Linked DNA regions of Homo sapiens. The main gene of each other region encodes a partner of the protein of the gene in region 2 in a complex. Each region holds a gene or a part of one and is shown on either strand. Other genes may lie near its edges. A codon is read from its position in the direction of its gene.

Region 1 (9,406 bases), on a different chromosome or scaffold from region 2:
TGTCAGAGTGAGACAATGTCTCCAAAAAAAAAAAAAAAAAGATACTAGAATATCAAAACCAGTAGAGTAGTGCACTAATCATAATATAGTTCTGGAGATGAACAGTGATGTAGTGATGTCAGTCGCACAACACTGTAGTACTTAATGCCACTGAAACATATACTTAATAAAATCACAGCTGGGTGCAGTGTCTCACACCTGTAATCTCAGCACCCTGGGAGGCCAAGGCAGGAGGATTGCTTGAGCCCATAAGTTTGAGACCTGCCTGGGCAATGTAGCAAGACCCCGTCTCTAGAAAAAATTTAAAAATTAGTGCACTGGGCCTGTAGTCCCAGCTACTCAAGAGGTTGAGGCAGGAGGCTTGCTTGTGCCCAGCAGTTTGAGGCTGCAATGAACTATGATTGTGCTACCTTACTCCAGCCTGGGCAATAGAGCAAGACCCCATCTCTAAAATAAATAAATAAATAAAACCACAATTTAAAAAAAATTAAAATAAGAAAACAGTAGAAATAGTTTTACCGTTTTTATTTGCAATGAAAACTATTTTACTGAAAAGATTTATCACATATAAATTCATATGAGCATAACATAAATCCTAACAGTGAAAGCTGTATTTCTGAAAGGGACAGCTATGCAACAAAGACTACTTAATAAACAATTCTGTACTTTACAGACAGGTGCCAGAAACACGTAGAAAAATCAAACCCACATGTTATGGATCTGTAGCTATATTTAAAACATATTGAATCCCTCATTTGGTAAAAATCAACCTGGAAGCTCAGCAGCCTGTACTTCGCTAGCCCAACTGAAGCACTCTAAGCCAGGACACTCTTTCAGACTGCCAGTGCTAGTAAATGATATTAGAACACTTCTAAAACAAAAAGCAGGTTTTCCAATGGAAAAAAACCTATTCTTATTGGAAACAGGTTTGACACATCTATTCTGTAAAAGAAAGAAAGATAGCACATACTTTTTTCTAACAAATATGTATGAGGCAGGAAGTACAGAACCAGAATAAAAATCATAATTCCACGACCCAGTATATTTCCTTCTTGTTTTTTAAATCTATAATTATTTATTTTTCAAACTTGAAAATGGCAATACTGTATTCTGCTTGGTCACTTAGGTTTATTGAAAGCTGTTTTCCCAAAGATACAGGTTTTTAAAGTTTTTGAATTTCAACCAATGGATATCAACCTACAATTATCAGTATTCTTAATGTTCTCCAAGTTGGTAGGAGCCGATAATTTAACCCCCAGTCTTTGTATCCAGTTCCTTATACTTACCTTGTAAACTTCACTGAAACCTCCTCTACCCAAAAGATGTAACAACAAATATCTGTCATTTAGCGTTGGATGATCTTTAAATCTGTGGAAACAGGGAACATGTAACACCCTGAGATCATGGACTACAGTCTTCCACGCTTGCAAAATTCCCAGAATATCTAACACATTATACATATAATTATAGCTGCTGTTGGTAGTTTGACAATCAACATCAACATGGCAAATACTGAGTATAAAGTTACACAGTTCAAAGAGGCAGTGTAATTACAATGAACAGCACCAGCTATAGAGCCACAGGACTTGGGTGCTGGTCTCAGTGTAGCTACACTAGACCTTTCTTGCTCCTCCTCCTTTTTTCTGCCCTGCTATACAATGAGGGAGGGTAGATTAGAGATTTTTAGATTGTGCTATTTGGCTCCTCCAAACTATTCAAGGGCCACATGTTCCCACCATTTCAAAACTACATACAGTAAAATTCCAAGACACTTGCTATTTCCTTAAAAACAGATTTGATTTTAAAGTGAGTCACATGTTCTATGTGCATTCATTATTCTCTCTTTAAGACAGATATAACTGTGTTCCCCATATTAGACTCTACCTTGGGTATTTTCTTAATAATATGATAAAGAAATGACAAGTTCTGGCAAAAACAAATTTAAAAATATTTTTACCTAGTTCCTGATCTTAAACAATCTCACTATTAATTCTGAAATTACTTTACATGGATTTTAAGAAAGTAGGATGCCTATCTGGAGAGACATTACTGCATGGTGGTTTAGATGAAAAAGATCCAAGTTGAACTCTTTGGTCACATTATTTATGGGTCCCTGGGCAAGTTAATTTAATTTCTCTAAGCTTGTTTTCTGATTAATGTATTAAAGATGACTGGGTTATCCTGCGGATTAAATGAGAGCACTAAGGGCACTTAGGACCAAGCCTGATACACAGAGAGCTCTCAGGAAGTGGTACCTGCTGTTGTCTGCCACTTTAACAGAAAGACAGGTCCAAAGCTCATATAAGCCAAACAAAAATATACAAGCTATGGCTTTATGAAAAAATGTTTCAGGGTCCAAAAAATATGGGGAAAAAACAGATTACTTATAAAAACCCCTTTCTACTTTCAACCTACTTTTCCCAGTTTCAATTCATCTACAATTAATGTACTGAACTTAAGAGTCTTACTTAAAATCTCAACACCTGAATAGCCCTTAAAGGTCATTCAGAAACCGAGTGTCATCTCAACCCAATACTCTTTCCACAACACCACACTGTGACCCATCTTCCCTTTCTTAAGGCTCTGTAGGAAAATCTGAATATGCAACATATCTCAACCATTTACAATTACAAAGCCATATTGTTTTAGTAATCTTTATTCATGTAAAAATGCTATATGTATACACATATATACTTAATATATAAATTTAATACAATTGTATATTTAAACCAAGGCAAATCATAATTTTGTTCACAAAATTGTATTAGATGCTACAAAAGAGCTAAATACACCATGGAATCATTTATGTAACTTACATTAAGCAAACACATTATTCTAGACCATTCAATTCATATCATAAAATGCTTAGCAATCTCCAACCCAATATGCCCTGAAGTAGCTTACTGTGAATTATCTTCATTATGTATCCTTTTTAGTTCCCTGATATGTAGATTTCTAACCCTTTCTAGTCTCTCCAGCTCTGCCTGGATCTCTGCTTCCTCCTAAAGCGAAAAGGAAAGAAATAGCACAAAATAGGGGGAACTTTACCTTTTCGGGATCTTATTTCAAAAACAATAGCAGACATTTATCTTATGAAAGGCTAAAGGAAGGTGCTTTGCATTGAAAGATTTCTTTAAGAATTTTAATCATAAAAATGAGCCCATAGAAAATAATAAAATTCAAACCATACAGAGGAGTTCAGTAAGAAAAGTAAAAGTTCCCTACCCTCCTCCTCCCTCCTCTCCATGCCCACTCCTGAGATGTAATAACCACTATTAAGTTTCTTACATAAGTTTTCAGGAATGTTTTGTGCATATACATTTAGACATGGAAACATTTTTTACAAAAATCAGGTTATCTATCTGGTTCGGTTCTCATCTTTAAGTATGGATTACACTTGGTGACTTAAGTTCTACTTATTTTTATTTTTTAAGATGGAGTTTCGCTGTTGTCACCCAGGCTGGAGTGCAATGGCACGATCTCGGTTCACTGCAACCTCCGCCTCCCAGGTCCAAGTGATTCTCCTGCCTCAGCCTCCCGAGTAGCTGGGATTACAGGTACATGCCACCACGCCCAGCTAATTTTTTGTATTTTTAGTAGAGTCGGGGTTTCACCATGCTGGGCAGGCTGGTCTTGAACTCCTGACCTCAGGTGATCCACCCACCACAGCCTCCCAAAGTGCTGGCATTACAGGTGTGAGCCACCATCCCCAGCAAGTTCTACTTATTTAACAAGCTCTGAGAACCCAGTGGGAAAACAGCATGAAAACTAATATGTGAAATAAAAAACAAAAGCACACATACCAAAAGCAGTTTAGTAAATCTTTACTGACCATTATCACCTATAAAGAGCATCGACCAATGTATGGGCTTCTGAATTTTAAGAGCTGAGTAATCCACATCTAAGATATCTCAGTGAACATCATCAATAACAAATTCTATGTTATGTGCCTTTGTATTTGAATAAGGTTCACATAACACTTTCTCTTTTTAGCTAGTTTAGGCAAGGAATAAGAGCTGCTATGTGATTTGAAATATGACAGGAGTCTTCACATCAATTTCAAAACCATCTGCTCTTGTTATATATTTAAATTTTACTCCAAGGATAACCACTTGGGAAGCCTTATGATGTGTACAGAATTATCTGCTGATAGATCACTAGGGGGAAAAACACTGTCATTGGGTTGCTGGAATTGACTTGAAAATGCAAAGATAGGCCAGGCATGGTGGCTCACACCTGTAACCCGTAATCCCAGCACTTTGGGAGGCCGAGGCAGGAGGATTACTTGAGGTCAGGAGTTCGAGACCAGCCTAATGGTGAGACCCCCGTCTCTACTAAAAATACAAAAATTAGCTGGGTATGGTGGCACGTGCCTGTAATCCCAGCTAGTCAGGAGGCTGAGACACGAGAATCGCTTGAGCCCGGGAGGTGGAGGTTGCAGTGAGCCAAGATCGTGCCACTGCACTCCAGCCTGGGAGACACAGTGAGACTCCAACTCAAAAAAAAAAAAAAGAAGAAGAAAGAAAATGGAAAAATATGAGTTCTACCATTAGGCTACAAGACATGACAGTGAAAGCAGTCACTGAAGCTTTCTGCTGCTATGTGCAGCTACTATTACATTCACCCAAATGACCAAATAGCTTCAACCCCAAATTTAAACTAGGTATCACATTTCTCCAGGGAGATTTTCTCATTATACTTACCTTTTTAAGATGACCTAATCTGAGTTTGAAGATTTCTTCTTGTTCATGGTATTCTGCTAACGTTAACCTGAAAAACAGTGGTAAAAGTTTCAGTAAACTACTAGAAATCATAGTTTGCCTGTTTAAAGAGAAATGCTCAAATATACTATAAGACATATTCAGTTTCAGTCTCAGTTAAAATGACTGAAAGATGGGTTATCTTGTAGTCCTCTGACAAGAGAAAACTTCTGTGATTTACCAGATGTGATGTGAGGGAAGAACTTCAAAGCCAGAAGTCTAATTTGCAAAACATAAAAAAGAAAAAAAAGTGAGCCATATTTTTATATTATTTTTGAAATGAGTTTTGTGCCATATATTACTAAGATAAAAACTCATTCAGAGACAGCCAAAAATTCTCTAAAAATTTTTTAGAGGGCAAAACAATAAGCCAATGGATTTGATTATTCTTGTTAATACTTAAACCTTGATACTGTAATAACAAAGAGAAAGATATAGCAGCAAATTAGAGTCTAGGATTTGGAGTCTGAGGACTAGGGTTCAAAGCACTACTAAGCTACTGGCCATGTGACCTTGCGCAAGCAAATTTAACCTCTTTAACTCAGTTTCCTGAAATGCAGCAAGTGATAATACCTATCTAAGAAAGAGTGACTATTAAATGACAACATATAAAGAATATTGAAAATGCTATTTAAATCAACTCTCAAAGGGCTGACTTGATGGGTAGTCATGTGTTTCATGTTCCAACTACTCCAACAGCATCCTTACATCTCAAGAATGAACAAGTGGCCAGGCTTGGTGGCTCACTGTAATCCCAGTACTCTGGGAAGCTGAGCGGGAAGGACTTGGAGCCAGGAGTTTGAGACCAGCCTGGGCAACAAAGCAACACTCTGTCTCTGTGAAAAAAAGAAGAAAGAAGCTGGGCATGGTGGCACATGCCTGTAGTCCCAGCTACTCAGGAGGCTGAGATGGAAGGATTGCTTGAGCCCAGAAGGTTGAGGCTATAGTGAGCTATAATCATGTCACTGCACTCCAGCCCAAGCAACAGAGCAAGGCTCTGTCTCAAGAAAGAAAAGAAAAGAAAAGAAAGAGAGAGAGAGAGAAAGACAGAAAGAAAGAAAATAAAAGAAAAAAAGATGAACAAGTGAGAATTATTTTTTCTTCCATCTCTACCTTCTTCGCATTCTAGAAGCATATAGATATTTAATATTTTTAGATATCACTGTTTAGATATATTCTAAATAGCAGAAGAAAGGGGAAATATCTATCCTATCAACCAGAACAGAGCCTTTGAGGTCTAACTCAAGAAAAAATAGAAAGAAGAAGAAACTCACCCACTAGGGCTATCTCTTTACAGATGCAGAAATACCTGTATCTATTACTCCATTCCACACCAGCGAAAAACAGAAAAATTAAAAATGATGGCTAAGAATTCTCTGTCTGAAACAGGTTCGGGGCCAAGAAAGGATAATATGGCTCACTCCAAGACCCCAGAGGCCTACTTCTGGCTTCTGGTCAAAGTAAGAGCCAAGTCACAGATACTCTAATTAAAAACTGGACTGAAAGTCTTCCAGATTGGATTTTACACAGGACACCAGATAGCAATTGCTTACACATTACTAGCCTAGATTGCATTCTAATTATTCTTCTGTGGCAAAGAAACAACCTATGCTTTCTTTATCACTCCTAAGCCAATGGTTTTGTGCATTAGCATTAAATAATTTTCAAATAATACTAGAGGGAAAGTCCCTTCACAAAATACACACAGGAGTCATGAAAGAAAACATTGGTCAGATTAATTAGCCTGGACAATCTTTCAAATTTGAGCCCCTACTTGGACTTGCTGAAAGGAAAATACTTTATATTTAAGACTCAATACTCTTCCCCTCTTCTCATTCTCATTATTGCACTTGACTAGTCTTTAAAATCAAGGGAAAACAAGACTCTAGTTTTGTAACATTTGGGCTGGGTGCAGTAGCTCGCACCTGTAATCCCAGCACTTTGGGAGGCCGAGGAGGGTGGATCATTTGAGGTCAGGAGTTCAAGACCAGCCTGGCCAACATGGAGAAACTCCATCTCTACTAAAAATACAAAAACTAGCTGGGCATGGTGGTGCACGCCTGTAGTCCCAGCTACTCAGGAGGCTGAGGCAGGAGAAACGCTTGAACCCAGAAGACAGGTTTCAGTGAGCCGAGATAGCACCACTGCACTCTGGCCTGGGCGACGGAGTGAGACTTCGTCTCAAAAAAAAAAAACAACAACAACAAAATTTGGAGTTATATGAATGAAGATGTTTTCCAAGTTCATTATGCACATTTTTATCGCTATACTTAATGTAATTATTAGTTTATTCGTCTGTTCATCTCACCTAAGTAAACTGTGGGCTCCTAAGGCTGGGGCTGTATCCTTTAGCTCTGTATTCCCAGAAGAGGGCCTAGCATAAAATAAGCATTTAACATAAACTTACTAAACGAACATCAAGGAAGAGACTTCCCAAAACATCAGATATGTATGGGGTGAGGATTGGTGTTAAGCCATCTTTCTCACTAGAATGAAAGAAGATGCACTTCTAGGATGCCACAGACTTTTAACAATAATATAATACAAGTATTATTATACCTGAAGTGGATTATGTGTTGTTTTTGTGAACTAATATGAAAACATAAAGCAAATGACATATTAGTTGATAAGTTATATATCTTTTATCTGCAGCTATCTTTGGACTTGAAACTTACTTTCAGTTAAACAGAAAGGAAGAGAAGAATGGAGAAGGCAGGCATTTGTGCTTAGAATTTTCTACTCCTCCTATATATGGTAGCTATGTAAATATTGTTGAGTGACAGAGAAAAAGATGACTGTACTGCAGTTTAAGATACTGGTGTTTTCCTTAGATTCCCAGAACAGGAAACAATTCTGATGAGATCAAGTTGTGGCTTATTGGGACAATGTCCTTTTCTAACATAACAGCTTTCTGGGGGGCTTATCCTAAGTTTGTGACTATTAACTAAGTGCTCTTTTGACCAGTAAAGAGCATTCTTCAGTCTGAAATAACAGCCAGGTAACTCCCATAAGATGATACTAGTGTACCACACCCTGCAGCCACATGTAAGCAATAATATCATTTCAGTACAATGACATCTTATTTGTTAACCAGGAGTGGCCAAAAGTCATGATGTCAAGTGACATTACTTTTCCCTCTCATTCAAAATGCCCTAAAGAAAGAGCAGGTTTAAGAAAATCAATTAATTTTATATGGCATTTATATGAGTTGAGCAAATCCATTAATGTAACTGAAAAGAAGGTTTAAACCTGAGTGACCTCAAGAATTTAAAACTATTGCCGGTGACAATCAACATTTGTATTTGGGGGCAGGGTGTGGTGTCTCAGCGTTCACGTCAATAAAGAACATACGTTTCATTTTCAGCTCCATTGGTCTTGCTTTTCCGCTGTTTCTGCTCATTGGTTGCAGGAGGGGCCTGACCCATGGCAGGAGGTTTCCGCTTTGCTAACATTTTCCGTTGTCTTTCTATCTCTTCCCTCTGTGAATTTATCCTTTCCTGTTGCCTAGAGATATAAAAGACGTTGTACAAAGAAAGAAAGTCAAAAGTTTTACCACAGCTATGGAACACACACAATTTGTCACTTGTGTATCCAATTTCAGAAAAAATAAGCCCCTTTAAGTCAAGTAGAGATTTGATTTTAACTTCAGATTGGAAGGGCCAAATAATTGGTGATAGATGTTTTCTGGGAATGAGTCTGTGCTTTAAGACACTAGTTATTACTATTTTCAGAGTGGACAGGAAGGAACATATCAAATTTCTATTGTGACCTTATTTTCTGACTCAGAAGGAACAATTTTCTGATTCCTTTTTAACAGCTAAGGAAACAATTCTCTGATCTGAACCCATTAAAAGTAAATCGTATTTTAAAAGTTGTAAAAAGTTCCAAGTTCTATTTTATTTTTCTTTGGATGAAAGCTTCTCAGTTTTACGTAAAAAGATACCAAGTTTGTAGGATGCTAAAGAAAGTAAACAAGATTTTCTTTTTAGACCTATCCTTTATTCTAGTCTAAGGGAGCCATTACTACTCTACACGTCAACCCCGCCCACTGATACAGTGACACCTAGATTAAGTTTTTAAAAGAAAAATACATTTGGAGAAAGCACAACGAAGTCTTCCAACTAGTAAGAACTCCTTAGGGAATAGTATACAAAATGAATTAGTATAAAACATATTTTACAACTGCAGTTAATCTAACACCATTACCATTAGAGTATTTCCTAATAAGATGTCACATTTTTCTGTGATTAACTAGTTTACAAATTAGGGACCAATAAAAACTCCATTGTAAAAAAAAAAAACACTTTCTCTCATGTATCCTACCACCTAACAGATATTAAGGTTTACAGACTTGGTATATAAAAACATACAAAATTGGAGATTAACCATCTAACAGGTTAGTCTTTAAGTCACCCACTATAATTGACAATCAAATGATAGCTCCCTTCTCCTTCTTCCTCTACTGTGCTTTTCCACACATTCTCTTTTGTGGAACCAACCTTCATTTTTGTGGAATAATAAATCTTTTTTTTTTTTTTTTTTGAGACAGAGCCTCACTCTGTTGCCCAGGCTGGGATGCAGTGGCACGATCTCAGCTCTCAGCTCACTGCAAGCTCTGTCTCCCAAGTTCAAGTGATTCTCGTGCC
Region 2 (10,276 bases):
TCCAAAGATAAGAGGACAAATTAAGTTACAAAACAAGTGGCAAATGAGGTAGGTGACCCAAAAGCCAAGTGAAGAAACTGTTTTAAGAAAGTGATGTGAAAGGTACTAAACTAGCCAAGTGAGGATAAGACTAAGAATTATCACATAGAGTGGCTGGGCGCAGTGGCTCACGCCTGTAATCCCAGCATTGTGGGAGGCTAAGGTGGCTGGATGGCTTGAGGTCAGGAGTTCGAGACCAGCCTGGCAAACATGGTGAAACCCCATCTCTACTAAAAGTACAAAAATTAGGGGTGGCACATGCCTGTGGTCCCAGCTACTCGGGAGGCTGAGGCACAAGAATCGCCTGAACCCTGGAGGCGGAGGTTGCAGTGAGCCGAGATCGCGCCACTGCACTCCAGCCTGGGCAATGGAACGAGATTGTCTCCAAAAAAAAAAAAAAAAAATTATTACATAAAGGTTTTCATGAATTTTAATTTCATATATAATTGTATCACTACATATAATGCCCTTGATCCTAAGTGGTATAAATTCGCATTTGTGGACTGGCATAGGAACATAGCCATAATTTATAAACCTATTTTAGAAAATACCTACTATATACTGGGCATTAGTTCTACTTCATACCTATTGTTTAAACCTCAACAGCTTCATCATGTAGATCAAATTATCCCCATTATGCAAATAACTTGAGACTCTGAGAGGTTAAGTAATCTACACAAATTCATAATTTGTACATCAAAGAATCAGAATCCAAGCTATGCCTCTGTAACTACAAACCCCGGGCTTCTTCTGAAAACCTAACTGGGAAGATAAATTCTTTCTAGCTCTGAAATTAGCAGTGGAATAAGGGAATTTATTTGCAGGGGAAGTGAGAGCAGAGGAGATGGAGAGAGAATCTAGCCTTAACAAGAACAGGCTGCAACTCAGGGAACACTTGTACATTGATTTTTATGTTTATGGGATGCTTGCTACAGTTGCTGAGTTTTACATGCTCAATACCCTTTTATACATTGGCATCAGTTTTTTTGTTGTTTTTTTTTTTAACCCAGCTTTCATTTAATTCCTCTGCCCCCTGTATTTGAGGGAGGAAGGGTAAGGTCAGATGTTTTACATAAGTTCTCAGGTGAAGAAATTTGTTCATTTATTTTAAAGTTAACTTTTATTTAATCACAGTAATCATGATTAAATGATTTACCCAGCCTGAAAGTATTTACATTTGTGGTGAAAGAGTGAGTGAATGAGGGAAGTCATCAAGAGAATTTTTAGCTAATTACACTACTTGGGAAGACCTGTGGTCTAGTGGAAAGTATGTAGGCTTTGGAATTAGAACAAGCTGAAGTTGGAAAGTATGAAGCACCATGCTCAATTCTGGTATATTATAAGTATTCAATTGACAGTAGCTGTAATTAAGATATATATATATATAAATTTAAGAATGGCAGGATGGTCAATCAAAACTTGTACAGTCTTGGTGACCATCAAGCACATCCAGCCAGGGTCTCAGGCTGTCTTAACCCTTGATATAAGCCCTATATTAGAAAGAACCAAATTATCTTAAGACCAAATATTCCTCAAGGCTTTTTCTGAAGCAAAGCTACAGGGCAGCTCTTAAAGGAAAGTGAACGTTTGGGGCTACTGATGAAAGTATGAAAAACGGTGGCCAAACTCTGCTTTGAGACTTGAGGCAAAATAACTTATTAAGAAAATTCTTTTCAAAATATTCTATAGTTTGGGCTGGGTGCAGTGGGCTCACTATAATCACAACACTATGGGAGGCAGGGGTGGGAGGACTGCTTGAGCCCAGGGGTTCGAGACCAGCTTGGGCAACATGGCAAAACTCCGTCTCTACAAAAAATTAAAAAATTAGCCCAATGTGGTGGCACATCGACTATGGTCCCAGCTATTCAGGAGGCTAAGGTGGGAGGATTGCTTAAGCCCAGGTTGAGGCTGCAGGGAGCAGCTGTGTTTGCACCACTGTACTCCATCCAGCCTGAGTGCCAGAGCAACACTGTCTCATTTAAAAAAAAAAAAATTCTATAGTTTAATTTTAAGAACAGAATTTTTAAAAGAACTGTAATATAAAAGTATGGAACCTATTAGAAGCCTTTGCTAAGTAAAAATTTCCTTAATCCACATAGCCTCTAGGTGGAGTATACAGGCATGGCACCTTTTTGAAAGATTCCTTTGCAGCTTCAGTATGACTCAGCTTAAAATATTTTTTAAAATACTAAATAAATGCTCAGTAATGGTGCCTAGGAAGTGAAATATACCATTGGAAATAAGTATGTTTTTGACACCAGTACTGTAAATCCCTGATGTGATTCAGCTGGGTTCTGAATGGATCCCAGTTAAAAATGGAACGTTTTGGCTTTATGAATGGCTGGTTTCATCTATGCAATGTAAAAGCCCTGTAACGACATCCTGAGTCATCTATCTTCTTTGTTCAGAGCTGACTCCTAAAATGGAAGGCAACACTTGAGAAATACCTGTAATTTGAAGAACTTCTGGTGGTATATCTGAAAAACAGTGTGGTATAAGTTGGAATGGACCGATCAATGGTTTTTCTTTTGTCTATTTTTATATGCAGTTGGCAATAAAAAAAAAATTACTGTTGGGTGTGAAAAATGGGCCTGGTAGCTGCAATGCTTATATTAATAGTAGTATCATAGGAGAGTAATCAAATGACTTCAGAGTAATAAGAAAAATACCCCTTAGTGTTATCAATGGCCTATTTGAAATTATTTTAATAAATGAATCATCTTTCAAAATTTGCCCTATATATGTATGTGCATTTATGCTCTATATAGGTTTAAAAAAAAAAAAAAAACGGGGGCACATGTTAAAGTAATAATTGTGATTACCGAAAGGAGATAGGGCAAGGCACTGAGTACAGAGAACTGTTAACTTTATATATGCCTGTACAACTTTCTAAAAGTTTATTACAATGAATATATATTGTTTTATAATTAAAATTAACCTTACATATGATATATACATTTTAGAGATTAAAAACTAGTTTTTAAAATGAAAAGTTTTACATGCCACGATTACCTAAATCATCTTCAATGCATTTTTTACATATACTTCTAGTTCAAAGTATGTCCCTCATCGATGAAGTTAAACTATTTCCCCTTCAAAACTGGCAAATGAAGCACTGAATTACTTTAGTAAAAGATAATTAAAGCAAAGATAATTGTCGTTTTAGCTTTCTAAATATTTATTACTAAAGATATTAAAAATACGTATTTTTAAGACCTTAAAATATATGTAGAAAAAATACCAAGAATTCTTGGACTGACATGAGGAGTTGACCTTAATTTCCTAGCCTACGTTTGTGTTTTATGTTTAGGGTGTGTTCTGTATTTGGATGTGGAGTTATTTTAGATTTCAACACGGTCTTGAAGAAAGTCTTCCTTCAGACTATTTATAAGGCAGAGATTAAGTCCTGGAAATTATTTAAGTATCTTATTTCTGCTTTTAGGTTAAATGTAACTTCCTACCTCAGCTCTATTTCTCTTCCTGAAATTAGCTTTTCGTCATTAGGGGAAAGGAGTCCACGTTGGTTGGGGAGCCTGCGCGCCAGCATCCCGGCGCATCCCGGGCGCCGGCCGAGGAGGACCGGCCGAACAGGACCCACGGCCCCCGGGGAGCGCCGGCGCCCAGCCCGCGGCGCGGAGGGGCCGAGCCTGCGCCCGCCTCCCCCGCTGGTTGGTCGAGGAAGCCAGAAATCAGCGCGAGGACAGCCTCGCTCTCCTCCCCGAAGCGGCCAGGCATGGCCAGCCCGGAGAGTGCGGCGACTCCACCGTGAGCTCTCGAGAGTGCCTGCCTGCCTTTCGCCGGGGGCAGGCGGGCGGCGGGGCAAGAGGAGGCGCCGTGCGCCGGGGTCGCTGGCCCAATTCTCGACTCGGGGTAAGATGGCTCCGCTCCGAACTCGCCGGCGCGACCACACGCACAGCCTCTCCCTTCCCAGCCTCCGTGCTCGGGCCCGGAGGGTCGCGGAGGCTGTTGGCGGCGCGGAGCCAGCCCGGCGCGACCTCAGGCGGCGCAGCGGGAGCGAGTGCGGGTCTCCGAGCTGCCCGCCCGCAGACAAAGCTGACAACATGGCTACCTCCGCTCCTCCGCTCAAACAAGTTCCTCGCAAGTTGAGCCCGGCAGGCGCCTGGGCTGCGGCGGAAAGCCGCGCGCGCCTCGGCGGCCGTCGTCCATCAACTTCAAGTTTCCCTCCGCAGAGCAGCCCGCGGCCGCCAGGCGCCGAACACAGCCGCCCAGCGCGAGGCCCGGCCCGGGAAACTTTCAACGTCTGCAGCCCGCAACTGACAGCCCGGGCGCACGGGCGCCGCACTCACCTTCAGACAGGTCCTCGATGCACTCGAAGGTGATCTCGAACTGGAACGGGTTGTAGAAAGGAGAAGGGTTATCCAGCACCACTACATTGTTCACCTGAACCTTTGCCATATTTTGAAAAAAACACAAACAATGGGAACTGGGGCTGGTTGCGGCACAATAAAGTCCAGCGCGCGGCCGCTCGGGAGAGCGCAGACCCCCGCTCCAGCGCCGGCCAGACGTCGTGCAGCGGCGACTTGAGAAACTTTTTTCCTCTTTTTATTTACACGGGAGCACTCCACAGTGTTTTGCAGCTTTCCTATTTCACTAAACTACAGCCCATTCTGCTCTGATAAGTAGCAGCGTTGCCCTCGATTGGCTGCACCCGAGTTCTGACCCTCCTCCTCCAGCGAGGGCCTCGGCAGCCAGCAAGATGGGCTCCCGCTCCCGGAATGGACTCGGAAACTTTAACTGCGGCTCCACCTGCTGGTGTGGATTAGGACAAAGGCGGAGAACAAAGTGAGTGGAATAAGGGCTGGGAGGCCCGCGCGGAGGCCGCCGGCGGCGGCGCGGAGAGGGGCGGAGGGGGCGTGGCCGCGGCGGGGAGGCGTGGCTGCGGCGGGAGGGCGCGATCCGGCCGACGCCCGCCCCTCCAGTTGGCTTCGTGTGGGTGTTTTGGCGTTTTTTTGTTTTTTTTTTTGTTTTTTTGGTTTTTTGATTTAACGCTCTTTTTACATCAGTGCAACAGCTTTGCCGGCCTTGCTGAATTTAGCAGATGAGAGTCGGTGTTTACACTGGGTTAGGTTCAGCTTTCTGCGTATCGGGTAGTATTTGGAGTAGAGAGAAAGATTGGCTGCAGGGGAAATAAATTGCATGTTATAGACCGATGTCAGCTCGAAAGGAGCAAAGCCATTTTGGAAATCTAGCTCTTGGCCAGTATCTACGTTTAGGCACGACAGCGCCGTTAAGCAACACAAAATGAAGGGCGAGGAATGATTTTCTACACACTGTGCTTGGAAAATTTAAATAGGTAACCTTTGGGCTTGCACCTGGGCGTCTTCTTCGGAGTCCAGATCTGGGAAGTCCTAGAATAAAAAAAAATCACAAGAGGTGTGATCAGTTATACTTCAGGTTACTGCCATTTGGAGAGCATAGCAGGAACATAAAAGGAGAAAATGGAAGTGTTAGGAGACCAACAGGGCAACAAACGTAATAGAGATGGGAAAAAGAACACAAAGACATAGCAAGACATTTGATCTTCAAAAAAATTTCTGACCTAAACCGTTAGTAAAGCAAATTCTGAGGAGCCCTTGCTTGCCTGTAACCAGTTGAGGTCTGAACTGAGGAAATGTTGATTCGTTTATGCTGCTTGGCTACCATTGCGGGGAAAGAGAAAGCTTTAACATATTTGTGAGCCTAAACCGTTTCTATTTAGTAAGTGGTATAAAGGTTTGTTTTATTATCTGCTAGCCATAAACCATCATTTTTTTCCTTAAATGTTGTGAATGAAACCACCAAACTTGGCCAAATTCAGAGAGAAAATTAATTCTTAAGTATGTGTTCTGGAAGAGTTTTCTCTTAGTATAGTGCCCAGAATTTTGATTTGTCATTCTTTGGTCATTGTTCATACTTAAGTAGGTGGCTTTTGATGAAACGTTTTCATCTGATGGTCTTTTGAAAGTTAATGTGAGACAGCTAATGTCAACCCCTCGTACATTTAGGAAAACCGGTTAGAGTGGGGAAGAGTTCCCTTTTTTTGTCAGTGGATTGAACAGTTAGATATAGGACCTACCAAAAAACACTTCTTCAAGCCAGTTGTTTGTGACATTAGAGTATTAAGAGTCAAACCATGGTGATAGACACAGATTTTTGTGGCTGATAAACAACATACTCTTCATTCTTATTAGTGCTGGTCCTAACACTAGCAGATAAAGTGGAAATTGCTGTATGCTGTAAGACACTCTGTATATGTAAGATAAAATGACCATTTGAAGATTAAAACTCCTGTGAGACTGGTGTATGCAGTTGTCTGATTATTACAGGTACTCTTAAGAGGAGAGTCTAGTCAGTCTCATGAAAACGACATTTTATGCTTGTTAAAATCACGTGCATTTTGCAGTCTGACCGTAAGTGTTACAATGAGACTAGTTGTAAAACTCACTTTTGGTGGATGTGCAGCATGAAGGACTGAGAAGATCTACCTGAATGCCACTAATTTGGCTTATTTTCTTTAAAATTTTTTGTTTAACACATCATATGCAACAGTATTTAAGAAGAAAAAACTCCCCAACATTTCACTGGAAGCTGCAAGAATTAGCTCCAGGCTTCTCCTGTCTTAACTCTTGTATTATTGCTTGTCAGAAATACTAAAGGGTCGTTGAGCACTTTGTTCAATAGTTTCCTCACCATTGATACTACCTTACTCCAGGAGAGACCGAAAGGATTCCTCAGATATGTCCTGGCATATTTCTAATTTAACTGGTATGCTGTAGGAAAAAAAGAATTGTGAAAGCCTCTCTCTGGTTTCAGAGGCAATCAGTAGGACTTGTTGCTGAACAACTTTGGTGACTCCCAAACATCTAATTGTACAACAGATGGGTCACTGTGAATGTCTTTATTAAGTACCCAAGGGGGTCCCACATAATGTTTGGAGGGCTGCATGGAATGTAATCCCCCAATCACTTCTCACTATGGGTTACTTGGGGGAAGGATGGCTGAGAGAGATTTTATCGGCTCTAAGATGAACAGAACAAAGCCTAAACTAGTGCTTAGGGCAGAAATACATGAAACTAGTTAGTTGTTGTTTTAGACTGAATTATGTCTCCCCCAAATTCGTATGTTGAAGCACTAATCCCTAGTACCTCAGAATGTGACTGTATTTGGAGATTAAGTTAAATGAGGTGATTGGGGTGGGCCCTAATCTAATCTAGCTGGCGTCCTCACAAGGGGAAATTTAGATTTACAGAGAAGCACAAGGGTCACACGCACACAGAGGAAACACAGCAAAAAGGTGGCCATTTGCAAGCCAAGCAAAGAGGCTTTAGAATAAACCAAACCTGCCAACACCTTGATCTTGGATTTCTAGCTTCCAGAACTGTGAGAAAGTAAATTTCTATTGTTTAAGCCACCCAGTGAGTGATATTTTGTTATGGCAGCTCTAACAACCTAATATAGCTATAAGATATTTTTCCCCTCAGAATTAAGCTTATTTGAGCATCTAATCTTACTGAATCCAAATATTGGTCAGTTCCCAAGCACTTCCTGTGGGTGAAATGATGTGGTCCTTTAGCCATGCCAGTAAGGGTGTGGCGTATGTGGAGTGGTGTGCTGTTGCCATTCTTCAGAGGAAGTATATACCACTGGGCATATAGCTTGAATTCTGAAGACACAAGATGCAGCTTACTTGCATGGATTCAAGACTCCTCTACAGAGAAGTGAAACTTGAAGTCAAATTGAGGTCATACACAAAACAAGATGAAAGAGCGAATTCAAATATACTAAAATTGAATTAAATCAAAATGTGCCAAATTAAAATACATTAGAACTAGGAATTAAATTGAGTGTCAGCCCGTGTCTACTGCAAAAGTTATCATAGGAATGGAAGTACTAACCTCTAGCTTTTGTTCAAATCTAGATTTCCACCTCGGGTAATCACTGTGTTGAATTGTCTTCTCATTTGTATTATTACCAACTTAAAAAAATTCCTCATGTAAGGCTTGTTTTAATATGGTCTTTAGTTAGTTTAAGAGGCTCCTTTTTATTTATTAGAAATAGGATGTCAAAATTTAATGATAGTTTTAAATAAAATTTTCTGTATAAATATAGACTAGAGATTTGATGGAGTTCATAGACATTTCTAAATGGAGTAAATTGTACAATAATGATTTCAATAATAATTCATTACATACATACAGAGAGCATTTGTTATGTGAAATTTTTATGCTAGGCTCTGTGAGAAATAGTCAAAGATAAGACATACAAAGACCTTATGGTTCAGTAGGAAAGGTAACTAATCAAATAAGTATGATGCGAAATAGAAAGTGTTAGATGCACCTGTAACCAGTTATGTTAAAATAGGCAAAAGAAAAAATGTTTTCTTGACAATTTGTAAAAAACTTTAAAATACCTGTTTTTGAGCCTCACAAACAGGAATGGCAGGAGGGTAAGATATCATCCCATATAACAAATGAGGATGCTGCTGCTCAGAAACCCATTCCTCTGATGGCTGTCCTAGTACCTTTGTACTCTCTACCATGTCAAGTAAATTTTAAAGTGGGCTTTGTATGTAGAAAAAATAGATTGGTATCATTTTCTGGAAGAACCCACAGGCTGGCGGACACTCCAGTAATGACTTGATTAATGAACTCTTGAGGAACAAAGCTCCATTAATGAGGTTGGTCCAGGTGTATACTGGGAGAGAGAAGGAGACCCAGCCAAGGCAAAGCTGGGGGAGGCTCCCCACGGGGTACTACAGATGTCAAGCCTCCTGTTGAAAAAGGCATCCCTTGGAAGGTGTGGGGGATGGAGCTACACATCCTGGAATGCATCCTTATACTTTTTATAAGGTTTCCATGTCTGTTACATAGCGTACCCTCTCCCCTTCTCTGCTCCACGTCATTAATAAAAGTTTCACTGTTTTGTGTTCTTTTCTACCCATCATTGTGTTAGAAGTTTGTTGAAGGTATAAGCTATATCTGATCCCTTATCCATAGCTGGACTATACTGTAAAACACCTTTTGCATAGCCATAGGTTACATCAGTCAGCTTTCTGAAGCACTGTAATTACATTTATTGACAGTTTCTTGGTGTGTATATCATTATGTTGTTTTTGACCATTTTGAAGGGAAATGCCTAATAATTATTTTCTGTTTCTTATACCTAGTTTTTTGTCTGTGTCTTCTTAGTCCTCTTATCAATCAAGGTCTTTCTAAACTCGTTTCCTCTTGAACTCAAGTCTCTACTTGCAGTCCATCTTCCTTCATGTTTTATAATATATTCCATCCTTTTCTCTCTAACCCTCTACTGCTCTCATTCATCAGAGGTTCACTTTTTAATACCAGGAAAAAAAACAGTAATCGGTAGAGAGGACTCAAATCTTTAAAACATCTCTAGGCTAGACCACTGCTCGTACAAAGCCATTACTAAGCATAGCAGCTTTTCTAGTTGGTTACTATAGAGACAAATGACATTAGATGGAGTGACGCTTGGCAGAAGCTAGGCATGTAGGCTTTGTGAGATTGGAGGCCTCATATGCATGGTCATTTAGAAAGAGTCAAAAACCAGAAAGGATAGGGAGGGGAAATGCTTCACAAATGAGCTAATAGGTAATTAATTGGTAGAAATTTGGTTGGTAGAATTTGTGCCTGATAAGGCTTTGAATCCGGCATGCAAAGAATCCACCTCTAAGTACCCCCTGGTATGATTACACAGTAATATTTTTCAGGTAACAGCTTTGTTGAGATAGAATTCACATAACATGTAATTCACTCATTTGAAGCATCTGAGTCAATAGTTTTTAGAATATTCAGAGGTGTGCAACCATCATCACAATCAATTTTAGAGTATTTTCATGATCTCAAAAAGAAGCTTTGTAGCCTTTAGCACATCCCCCTCCCCAGCATATCCCCCAAGCAGTAGGCAAGCACTGAATTACTTTTTGTCTCTATAGTTTTGCCTATTCTAGACATTTCATATAAACGGAATCTTATAATATGTAGTCTTTTATGACCAGCATCTTTGAAGCATAATGTTTTTGATGCTTCTTTCATGTTGTGTTATATATTGATGCTTTATTCCTTTTTATTACCCAATAATTTTCCATTGTATAGGTATACCACGTTTTATTTATCTGTCAGTTGATGGACATCTAGGTGGTTTCTACTTTTTGGCTATTACACAAAATGCTGCTATTAACATATGTGTACAAATTTTTGCATGGGATGGGACAAATGTT
Region 3 (10,112 bases), on a different chromosome or scaffold from region 2:
ACAGACTAATTATATATAAGTGGTATCAATAGGTCTGCTTATAAGTATTGTCCTATGTAGAGATTTACTTTTTGGTTTTTACAAGCATAGTTTGCGCTTTTAGATGTCTCTCAGGTGAAAAATAGAAGTTGGCAGCCCTGAGCAAGCACCTGTGACACAGGGATTTTTATTTTAGTTTTAAAGTATGATACAGAGAATGAGGTTTTTGGTTTGATTTGGTTTGGTTGTGTTTTTTAGTTCTTTATTTTTTATTTGGGGGTTCTCTTAGTGATGGCATATTTCAGGTTTCAGTGACATAGATCAAGTAATTTTAAACCAATTTGGTTATTCTATCTAAGATGAGGGACATGGCTATTAAGGTCAAGCCAAACTATACTAAAAGTAGTATAGGGCAGCAGTTAAAATTATCTTTTGAAAATCAAGTATTACCTGGTTTCTTCTGTCACAACAGAATAGCTGGTTACCTAGTCAGTCACAGTTGCCCTTGCCTTCCCTTGTTAGTCCCTGGAGGTACTTGAGTGGAACAGAAGGTAGAATTAGCAACAGCTCAATCACTTTAGGTAGCATTTCTCCTGAATTCTGCTGCCAAATCCTCAGGGTCTATGGATTGGTTGAAATAGTAAAATCACACATAGTGATTTCTTGCACAGCGTAGAGGCGTTTAATTTTAGTGTATAGTGAACAAAGAAGGAAAACTGGGTCATATAAAATTTAACCTTAAAACACAGATTATAAATATCTTTGAATGTTAAGCCCTAGGCAGACAGACACTCTCATTCTTAACTCTGGTATGCAAGCTGGCCTTGCTGACAGTGGCATAGTTACATTAACTGTTTTTTAAGTTGCATGTTGTGATGTGAATGTTTTTTGTAAAAGTTGCCAAGTTAATCGAGTCCTAAATAAGTAGCCAAATGGTAACTGAGACCCACTGTAGACATTACTCGCTTTATATTATTTGCTTTCAAATACTAAAACCTCAGCTGCTAATTCAGCGCTCTAGGTGTACAGTGTCTCCTTCCCTTGGCTCCTAGCAATGTAGGGAACTTGAGGTTCTTCAGTATCTTCAGAGATTCCTTCCAGGCCACATATTTTTATGCTAATACTTCTATAGTTGCATTCAATCTACAAGGAGAAAGTGTACATTGGTGCATGTTTTATAAACCCAGACACAGATAGCTAAAACCATAATTAGTTTTTCTATACCCAGAGCTTTGAATTAAAAACAGATGCTTTTTTTTTCCCCAAGAGCAGACAGTTCTACATTCCTAACATTAGGAATTGGTGATACGAGAAGCAGGATCCAGAATTCAGAATGATTTAGTGAGACTCGGTGAAAAAAATGCATTTTCCCCTGGCTGTTTGAAAATTTACTTATTTGCAGATAAGTCTAGATTTAGTCTTGGAGATCAAAGTCTTTTATATTTTAAAAACTTATTCTTTATATTGATCAAACATGGCATATGTTAGAGAACCACTTCTTCTGTCATGTTTATGTATTTTGGAATTAAGTTGTTTGCATTCACTTTCAAAATCTGCCCATTTCTGTTTATGTGCACTTACCACAGATGTGTCGGGACTTTGCCTCAGGGGAGAGGTACTTTAGCACCTGTGTCACTGAGGAGATGGAGTGGTTGACAAGTACTGTTGCGCTGTGTAACTTGGGGTTTGGCCCTGTGGACAATATATTAGCAGAATGATACCACACAAAAGTATTACAGGATTAAGGCATGTAACTTCTATGGTAGTCCTTATGTATCAGCGTATACCCAAGTTCAGAAACCACAGGTGCATTTTTAGACCTTTACTTAGAGAACTAAAGGCAGTTCCAACCATCAGCCCATATGGCGGGATTAATGCATGAAAACCCTCAGAGGGTGTTGGGACATCCTACTTCCCTGTCCTCACCCAGTGGAACTCTGGTGTGTGCCTTGAGGATAAGGAAGTAGAGTGGAAACTCATCCTATCATTGAGTATTCTCAATATTTTGGCCTTCCCTCTGGAATTATGAGAAATTTAACAAAGTCTCAGGAACCTTTAGAATCCATTGTCCAACACTGCTAGAAAAACTGTAGGAGGTACATGGAGAATTCCTATAGTTCTTAGGTAAGTGCAAGACATGGCACAGGGATCCCTATCCACATAAAGGGGAATCTGGATGCTGCACACCTCAATTCTGAGAAATCCCTGACTGAACTTGGAATTATGACAGTAAAGTTTTCGTCCTTTAGTTTTCTAGAGCAGCTCACAGAAATTTTAAAAAGTAAAACAAGGCCAGGCGCAGTGGCTCATGCCTGTAATCCCAGCTCTTTGGGAGGCTGAGGCGGGCAGATCACGAGGTGAGGAGATCGAGACCATCCTGGCTAACAGGGTGAAACCCCGTCTCTACTGAAAATACAAAAAATTAGCTGGGCATGGTGGCGGGCGCCTGTAGTCCCAGATGCTCAGGAGGCTGAGGCAGGAGAATCGCTTGAACCTGGGAGGCAGAAGATTACAGTAAGCCAAGATCGCCCCACTGCACTCCAGCCTGGGCGACAGAGTGAGACTCCGTCTCAAAAAAAAAAAAAAAAAAAAGTAAAACAAAAATAAAGTCTATGCCCATTAAGACGTCTTCTAATTCAGTTGTGATTGTCTGCTCCTACTTAAAAAAATATTTAAGCTTGATGTTTAATTATTCCCTTTCAGCAAATTTGGATCAGAAAATTAAAGTATGTGACAAGATCAGGTCACCTTGAATTTCCACACAATCTCAAGACACTGAATAGCAAAAAAGTAACATTACACAGTAATGATTAGGATATTTCCTTAGACTTTGCTGGATCTTTGGTCTTAAGGTAACATGTAAAAGTAGTGAAGCCTTTCCTTTCATGGCCCTGTGCAATGTAACGGTTTTCTGCCTCCTCTTCAGCTGGAAGCGTTAGTGGTAGTATGGGCACAGAATATATGTACACTGGCGATGCTGACCATGCCTCCCAGGTACCCTGGCTCTGGGTTCCTTGACCTAGGGAACAAGATTGGATGAGGCAGATCTTTGAGCCCATGTGACTATAGAATTTGCTGATGATATAATTTTACAATAACAATGGATAGGAATTTTACCTCTCTTTTTATTAGTTTAATATTATTTAATATTATGTACATAAGTGTTCACTCGCCTAATTAAAAACATTGAGTAAACCAAGTTTTTATATAGACTACCCTTGCCATATGATGCTCTTTTTCTCTAATAATATGCAGTTTAAATCCTGAGGAATCAATGCCCAGCATTTCACCACATCTGAACTCTGTGTGGGCATTCTTCACTCGCCTACAAGGGGTAAACAAGGCTACCAGAACTTGAATTTGACTTATAGGGAGCTACCCAGGAAGGGGAAAGCCCTTGGGACTTTTTCCAAAACAATCTTCTATTTGAACTGTTCATCAGCCAAAGTAGTCCACTGAGGTGACAAAGCTTTCAGAAATACAAAGATGGGAAGATAAAGGTAACACTGGCCCACTTGGGGCTTTGACATTGGATTGGGTGGACTGAATAAACACAGCCTAGGTGGCCTGGGCTTGAGCCTCACTTACTTCTCCTTGATACATAGTTCCTGGTCTACCTTCTGACCCTTTTTCTAAAATAGCCAGTGTCTATTTCACTAGGCCATTTACTTACAAGTTCCCAGCTTTTAGGGAAAAAAGAGGGAGGGGGGAGCATCTAGTTTTGAATTAGATATACATCTTAGAAGTAATGAGCTATTGGCAGCTGTTAAATCAGATTCAGCCACAAACCAGAATTCTTTCTTGTTGAACAAGACCAATGAGTTAGATGACTTTAATAATTCCACTTTTCTCTCCCTCTCTTCTCCTCTTCCTGAAATCAGAGAGATGAGAAACTACTCTTTGAAATACCTCCAGAGGCGTTTTATTGTGTTCCTTTCCCCTCCAAGCAGCTCCCTTTATACAATTTTGCTCAGGCAACCAAGGACAGAGTATCGGCAGAAACATGGAGTGCTTTTGTATAGGCCACCTGTACATAAAAGTGTAATTATTTATTTAATTTTCCCATTTGTATCATATTAAAGCTTTGTACAGTGTTTTAAGTTCTGTTTTAAAATTATTTTGTATTTTATTTTTATAACCTAGTAATAAAATATTCATTCCGCATGCAAAATCTAGTTCTGTTTGTGTGATGGTCTGGATTTCAAAAGTGGAAAATATTTTTCTAATTTAATAAAGTTATTGAATACACCAGATGTTACAAGATCAACGGGGAGCAGATAGTGTTACTGTAAATGCAGTACCACATCTAGAAGTTCCCTAGAAAAAGCAGCCCAGGACTGAATAGAAGCTAGGTGTTAAGTGTCCCTGCAGTTAGGAGATGTTTTCCTGTAATAAAATTAAAATATTAAAAGCTCCTTTTTAGTCCATTATTCTGTCTGGCTGGAGGTACTTTTTCCTTCTCCATAGGAAATACCCCTTCTGCCACTAGAGAGATTCCTGCACCCCCACCCTCATCCTTCCGCCCGTAACCTTCCTTTGAACCAGAGCAACTCTCAGGAGGCATTCACAAGGGCACTGCCTCACCCCTCCTGGTTTGGTTTGACATGGAATGTTCGTGCCATCTGTTTTTCTCCGCTTGGATTCCCTTGCTTGATTTGTCACTGAGCAGCAACCTTCAAAATCCTCTCTCAGGTTTTTTTGTTTTGTTTTGTTTTTGAGATGGAGTCTCGCTCTGTCACCCAGGCTGGAGTGCAGTGGCGTGATCTTGGATCACTGCAACCTCCGCCTCCCAGGTTCAAGCGATTCTCCTGCCTCAGCCTCCCCAGTAGCTAGGACTACAGGCGCGTGCCACCACGCCCAGTTAATTTTTGTATTTTTATTAGAGACACGGTTTCACCATGTTGGCCAGGATGGTCTCCATCTCTCGACCTCGTGATCCGCCCACCTCTGCCTCCCACTGCATTCCAGCCCCGGGGGTGACAGAGCGAGACTCCATCTCAAAATAAAATTAAATAAAGGAGATTAAGAAATTACTCAGGCCGGGCGTGGTGGCCCACGCCTATAATCCCAGCACTTTGGATCTGCTGCCCTCTCCCGGCCAAAACATTAGCTGGGCTATAGCCCTAGGGAGGCTGAGTCGGGAGGATTGCTTGAGCCCAGGAGGCCAAGGCTGCAGTGAGCCGTGCTCACGCCACTGCACTCCAGCCTGGGCAACAGAGCAAGACCCTGTCTCAAAAAAAACAAAACAAAAACAAAAAACACCAAACCCAAAAATACAAACCTCAAGCTCCCAGAAGCTAATCATGATATGCTTACTGACATCTAAACTGCAAAGTAGTTGAAATATTAACCTCATGTAAACCCACTTAAGTAAATAAAGCTACATACAAGCAATTCTGTGTGCAGGGTGGCCCGAGGCACTTTAAGGGTTGTGGCTTGGGGATTATTAAGAACCTCCTAGAAATAATTCTTTCCTAAATGGTCAGTTGATGGTGAGCGCTGAAAAGCCGATGGGTACTGCTCGGCCAAGGGATTGAAAAATCGGCCTTTGAGAAGAACAAAGTCAAAATGAAAGATTAGATTATAATTTCTCTGGGGTGGTGCCAGTTGGATCTAGGAAACTTAAACTCGTGAAAGAATGTGCTTAGAGCAGAAGATAGAAGCTGGTGGCTGTCTCTGCTCCCCTCTACCTCTCTCCCGGGTCCTGGGTCTCCCTAGAGGGGCGTCCGACCCGCGGCAGCCCCACTCCCAGCTCGAATCCCTCCCTTCAGGTCGCTCCAGGGCGGGCAGCCAAGGTGGGCCTCCCCAGGCGCTGTGATCCACATTTCACCTCCTAACAACCGGCCTCTCGGCCGGGGTTGAGGACTCAGCGAGGCCTTGACTCCGTGGGTCTGGGCAACAGCCGGCTCCGCCCCGCCCCGCCAGCCGGGTCCCTCCCCATCCCGCGACCCAACGGTCGTTCCCCGCCGCCGGCCCCGCCCCTCCCTGGCCGCCCGCGGCGCGCCGGCGCCTGCGCAGTCGCCCCAGAGCGCCCCGACCGGGATGGCGGCCGTTTTGGAGTCGCTGCTGCGAGAAGAGGTGTCGGTCGCAGCCGTCGTGCGGTGGATCGCGCGCAGCACCCAGGGTTCGGAGGTAACAGCGGTGACACGCCCCCAGGTCTGACTCGAAGCCGGTTCCCGCAGTGGAGTCCAGCCCTCCAGTCCCCTTCCTCTAGGGCGCCTGGCTGCCAGCCGGGCCGAGTGCACTCCAACTGGGCGCCGCTGCCCGGGCCGCCCACCCGAGGCGCGCCCTACGGCCCCGGCTGCTCACGGCCCGCGGGCCGGCGGCTGACCCTCTCGCCCCTCCACCTGTGCTTCTGCCCTAGGATAACGCTGGGGAGGCGGCCGCGCTGAGCTCACTCCGGGCCCTGCGGAAAGAATTCGTACCGTTCCTGTTGAACTTCCTGAGGGAGCAGAGCAGCCGCGTCCTCCCGCAGGGGCCCCCGACCCCCGCCAAGACCCCGGGCGCCTCGGCAGCCTTGCCAGGGAGGCCGGGAGGCCCGCCGCGGGGTAGCCGCGGGGCGCGCAGCCAGCTTTTCCCTCCGACCGAGGCCCAGAGCACCGCTGCCGAGGCCCCTCTGGCCCGCCGCGGGGGCAGGAGGCGGGGCCCGGGGCCGGCCCGCGAGCGTGGAGGCCGCGGCCTGGAGGAGGGGGTCAGCGGGGAGAGCCTGCCCGGAGCCGGGGGCCGGAGGCTTAGGGGCTCTGGCAGCCCCAGCCGCCCCAGCCTCACGCTGTCTGATCCGCCAAACCTCAGCAACCTGGAGGAGTTCCCTCCCGTAGGCTCGGTTCCCCCCGGCCCTACAGGGTGAGACTCAGCTCTCATGCAGGAGATGGGTACCACGAAGGCTCTGGGGAGTCAGTCATTCGAGCTCGGCGCTCCGCAGTGGAGCGCCAGGATGGGTAGAAGGCTGGGGGTGATGGTGAGGGTTTTTGTGGGGTTTTTTGGCAAGAGGTCTAGCTGTTGCGGTGGTGGAGGGGAGATGTTTGAAGATAGGAATTTGAGAAAAACCTGTGGCTACTCTCAGCAGGACGAAGCCTTCTCGCAGGATCAACCCAACTCCGGTGAGCGAAGAGCGGTCACTCTCCAAGCCCAAGACCTGCTTCACCTCACCCCCAATCAGCTGTGTCCCCAGTTCCCAACCCTCAGCCCTGGACACTAGCCCTTGGGGCCTTGGCCTTCCCCCAGGGTGCAGAAGTCTGCAAGAGGAGCGAGAGATGCTCAGGAAGGAGCGGTATGGCCTGGCCGCTCCTGGGGATATCGGTTTCCTCGCTGTGGGGGATCTTCAGGGGTTTTCCCTGAAATTGATTTCCCTCTTGGGGACTCTGGGTTTGTCTCCTGGGCTGTTGGTATCTTCTCTGGAGTGACCTGAGTGTGGCCGTAGCAGGGAAGCCAAGCTGACTGCTCATGAAATTTCTTTATTCCATAGCTCTAAGCAGCTGCAGCAGTCACCTACCCCCACCTGTCCCACCCCAGAATTGGGGTCGCCCCTCCCCAGCCGGACAGGAAGCCTCACAGATGAACCTGCAGACCCTGCCAGAGTGTCTTCCCGCCAGCGCCTGGAGCTTGTAGCCCTTGTTTACTCCTCGTGCATTGCTGGTGAGTGAGAGCGGAGGGAGCGGGAGTGGAGACACTTGTAGAACTTATGGGTAAGAGAATTGGTAAGGCACTTGGAACTGAGCCTTGGCTCCAAATGGTGCCCATACCATGGGCTTTCTTTTTGTATCTATCTAGAGAACCTGGTACCAAACCTCTTCTTGGAGCTTTTCTTCGTCTTTCAGCTCCTCACTGCCCGGAGGATGGTGACTGCCAAGGACAGCGACCCTGAACTAAGTCCAGCTGTCCTAGGTCAGTGAGCAAGCCTCCTTTTGAGACATGGGGTCTAGAAACGGGACCGTTCTTAACTGACAGCTTGGTACTGTCCTTCTAGATTCCCTGGAAAGTCCACTGTTCCAAAGCATCCACGATTGTGTCTTCTTTGCAGTGCAGGTTTTGGAGTGTCACTTTCAGTGAGTTTCCCTGGCTGAGGCATTTGGGCCTCATTCTCATCATCTGCTTAGCTCTCTGGCTGCTTGGGATATATGCTGGTGCTTAACACAGGGGCAGTGGTCCTGGACCTTCTCCTACCTATAATCTTTCTTTAATTTTGTGTTAAGGCTATGAATGTAGTCCCTGAAAGAATTGAGATCGGGCCAGGTGTGGTGGCTCACGCCTGCATTCCCACCACTTTGAGAGGCCGAGGCAGGACAGTGACTTAGGCCCAGGAGTTTTAGACCAGCCTGGGCAACATGACAAAATCCCATCTCCACCAAAAAAAAAAAAAAAAAAAGGCCGGGTGTGGGGGAGTGCGCCTATAATCCCAGCTACTTAGGAGGCTGAGGTGGAAGGATCTCCTGAGCCTGGGAGGTCCAGGCTGTAGTGAGATCACGCCACTGCAGCCTGGGTGACGCCCAGCCCAGCCTGGGTGACAGAGACCCCCATCTCAAAAAAAAAGAAAAAGAAATGGACCCCTGTGGTCTTGGCAGCTGAGCTTTGGTTTCTGGGTAATGTTCCTGTCCTGCTGTCTTGGTCCTTGCTCTGTAAAGTCTCATATCCTCCCCTTGACTTTCATTATCTTTGATCCTTGGCCCATGACCTTGCAGTACATATCTGGGCTTGCATACCTGCGCCATGCCTTAGAGATCCTCTGTGGTGTGCAGGTGCTTGCTTCCTACTTGCAGTCTGTGTTCTGGTCTCAGTCATAGGTGCTCTTGTCCCTGCAGGGTTCTTTCCAACCTGGACAAAGGGACCTTGAAGCTGCTGGCTGAGAATGAGCGGCTGCTGTGCTTCTCACCAGCTCTGCAAGGCCGCCTTCGAGCTGCCTATGAGGGCAGTGTTGCCAAGGTAGTAACCCCAGCTTAGTTGCCCACTAGCCTGGACCTAACCCTTCCTAGCTTTCATAAATTCAGGCAACCCTGCTGACGACACTTCAGTGTAATGTGAGCTAACTCTGGGCAAGAATAAGAGGGAGAAGTTTTCTCAGCATGACCCTGCAGTTCCTAACGTTCCTGCTGTATTTTAGGTCTCTCTGGTGATGCCTCCCTCTACTCAAGCTGTCTCCTTTCAGCCAGAGACTGACAATCGTGCCAACTTCTCCAGTGACCGAGCCTTTCATACTTTTAAGAAACAGAGGTGATAAGAAAAGGGACTTTTTGGGGAGGGAATGAGATGACATTTTTCTGGAATAGGCAGCTGTTTGGTTTCATAGAAATTAGGAGTTTGGCACCAACAGGTGGTGGGTTAGTCCCCCCAGGTCCTTCCTGCCGGCCATCATAGGGACCACCTGGCTTCATTCTCATGTGCATCTGTGAACCCCGGCGCTTAGCAAGCCATCTCACAGGTGTATGGTTTTAGTCTCAGGGTTCTCAAGCAAGAGTGTGCCAGGATGAACTGTCACTGCCCACAGAAGTACATGAAGCCTGTAATGTGCTGCTGGTCTGTAGCACTACTGTCATCATATAGAGAACTCTGGAGAAATTTAAAAATGGGGCTGCTGGCCGGGTGTGGTGGCTCACGCCTGTAATCCTAGCACTTCAGGAGGCCGAGGGGCGGATCACCTGAGGTCAGGAGTTTGAGACCAGCCGGGCCAACATGGTGAAACTCCGTCTCTACTAAAAATACAAAAATTAGCCAGGCGTGGTGGTGGGCACTTGTAATCCCAGCTACTCTGGAGGCTGAGGCAGGAGAATCGCTTGAACCCAGGCGGGGCGGAGGTTGCAGTGAGCTGAGATCGCGTCATTGCAATCCAGCCTGAGTGACAAGAGCAAGACTCCATCTCCAAAAAAAAAAAAGGTGGTGGGTGGGCTACGGATAGTTCTTCCAGGGGCAGGAAGGCACTGGTGGGAGTGAGTGCCTCGGCTGATCAGGCGTTCTTATGCGTCAGGGATGTGTTTTATGAGGTGCTGCGAGAGTGGGAAGATCACCATGAGGAGCCTGGCTGGGATTTTGAGAAGGGCTTGGGCAGCAGAATCAGGTGGGTGCTCAGACCTTGTCTTTCTTGTTCCTGGCAATGAGTAGCTCAGTGCTTGCTCGGTGGCAGGAGGGAGGAGGAGGGAAGG

What was found.
Region 1: the proteins of ASF1A (region 2) and TLK2 are in contact, whole or in part, in a crystal structure (PDB 7LO0), measured with the Homo sapiens proteins. Residues at the interface, in NP_054753.1 of Homo sapiens: Val45, Ala48, Glu49, Glu51, Asp54, Asp88, Val92, Thr93, Val94, Leu96, Arg108, Gly110, Tyr111, Tyr112, Arg145, Thr147, Phe149; in NP_001271262.1 of Homo sapiens: Arg11, Arg12, Gln13, Leu15, Leu16, Glu17, Arg19, Phe20, Thr21, Gly22, Val23.
Region 3: the proteins of ASF1A (region 2) and CDAN1 are in contact, whole or in part, in a cryo-EM structure (PDB 9CVC), measured with the Homo sapiens proteins. Residues at the interface, in NP_054753.1 of Homo sapiens: Gln5 (codon at 4,443), Val6 (codon at 4,440), Asn7 (codon at 4,437), Asn8 (codon at 4,434), Val9 (codon at 4,431), Val10 (codon at 4,428), Val11 (codon at 4,425), Leu12 (codon at 4,422), Asp13 (codon at 4,419), Pro15 (codon at 4,413), Asn20 (codon at 4,398), Pro21 (codon at 4,395), Phe28 (codon at 4,374), Asp37, Val45, Ser47, Ala48, Glu49, Ser50, Glu51, Glu52, Asp54, Asp58, Ser59, Val60, Leu61, Val62, Gly63, Pro64, Val65; in NP_612486.2 of Homo sapiens: Arg195 (codon at 7,059), Arg196 (codon at 7,062), Ile197 (codon at 7,065), Asn198 (codon at 7,068), Thr200 (codon at 7,074), Val202 (codon at 7,080), Lys390 (codon at 8,809), Leu391 (codon at 8,812), His470, Glu471, Glu472, Pro473, Gly474, Trp475, Asp476, Lys538, Arg541, Arg544, Leu545, Gln546, Arg548, Leu549, Met550, Ala551, Pro552, Gln553, Ser554, Ser555, Arg806, Lys807.

The regions. Positions count from the first base shown.
Region 1 is NC_000017.11:62,572,073-62,581,478, reverse strand, and holds part of TLK2 (serine/threonine-protein kinase tousled-like 2), read right to left. Parts: intron 8,265-9,406; coding exon 8,112-8,264; intron 7,135-8,111; coding exon of another isoform or gene 7,069-7,134; intron 4,771-7,068; coding exon 4,704-4,770; intron 3,003-4,703; coding exon 2,905-3,002; intron 1,369-2,904; coding exon 1,287-1,368; intron 1-1,286. UniProt on the Homo sapiens protein: Serine/threonine-protein kinase involved in the process of chromatin assembly and probably also DNA replication, transcription, repair, and chromosome segregation. Phosphorylates the chromatin assembly factors ASF1A and ASF1B.
Region 2 is NC_000006.12:118,888,593-118,898,868, reverse strand, and holds the start of ASF1A (histone chaperone ASF1A), read right to left. Parts: upstream 4,718-10,276; 5' UTR 4,456-4,717; coding exon 4,347-4,455; coding exon of another isoform or gene 3,544-4,346; intron 1-3,543. UniProt on the Homo sapiens protein: Histone chaperone that facilitates histone deposition and histone exchange and removal during nucleosome assembly and disassembly.
Region 3 is NC_000015.10:42,733,012-42,743,123, reverse strand, and holds the start of CDAN1 (codanin-1), read left to right. Parts: upstream 1-5,995; 5' UTR 5,996-6,021; coding exon 6,022-6,111; coding exon of another isoform or gene 6,112-6,135; intron 6,136-6,343; coding exon 6,344-6,822; intron 6,823-7,042; coding exon of another isoform or gene 7,043-7,045; coding exon 7,046-7,249; intron 7,250-7,444; coding exon 7,445-7,614; intron 7,615-7,749; coding exon 7,750-7,863; intron 7,864-7,945; coding exon 7,946-8,024; intron 8,025-8,777; coding exon 8,778-8,898; intron 8,899-9,076; coding exon 9,077-9,186; intron 9,187-9,937; coding exon 9,938-10,027; intron 10,028-10,112. UniProt on the Homo sapiens protein: May act as a negative regulator of ASF1 in chromatin assembly.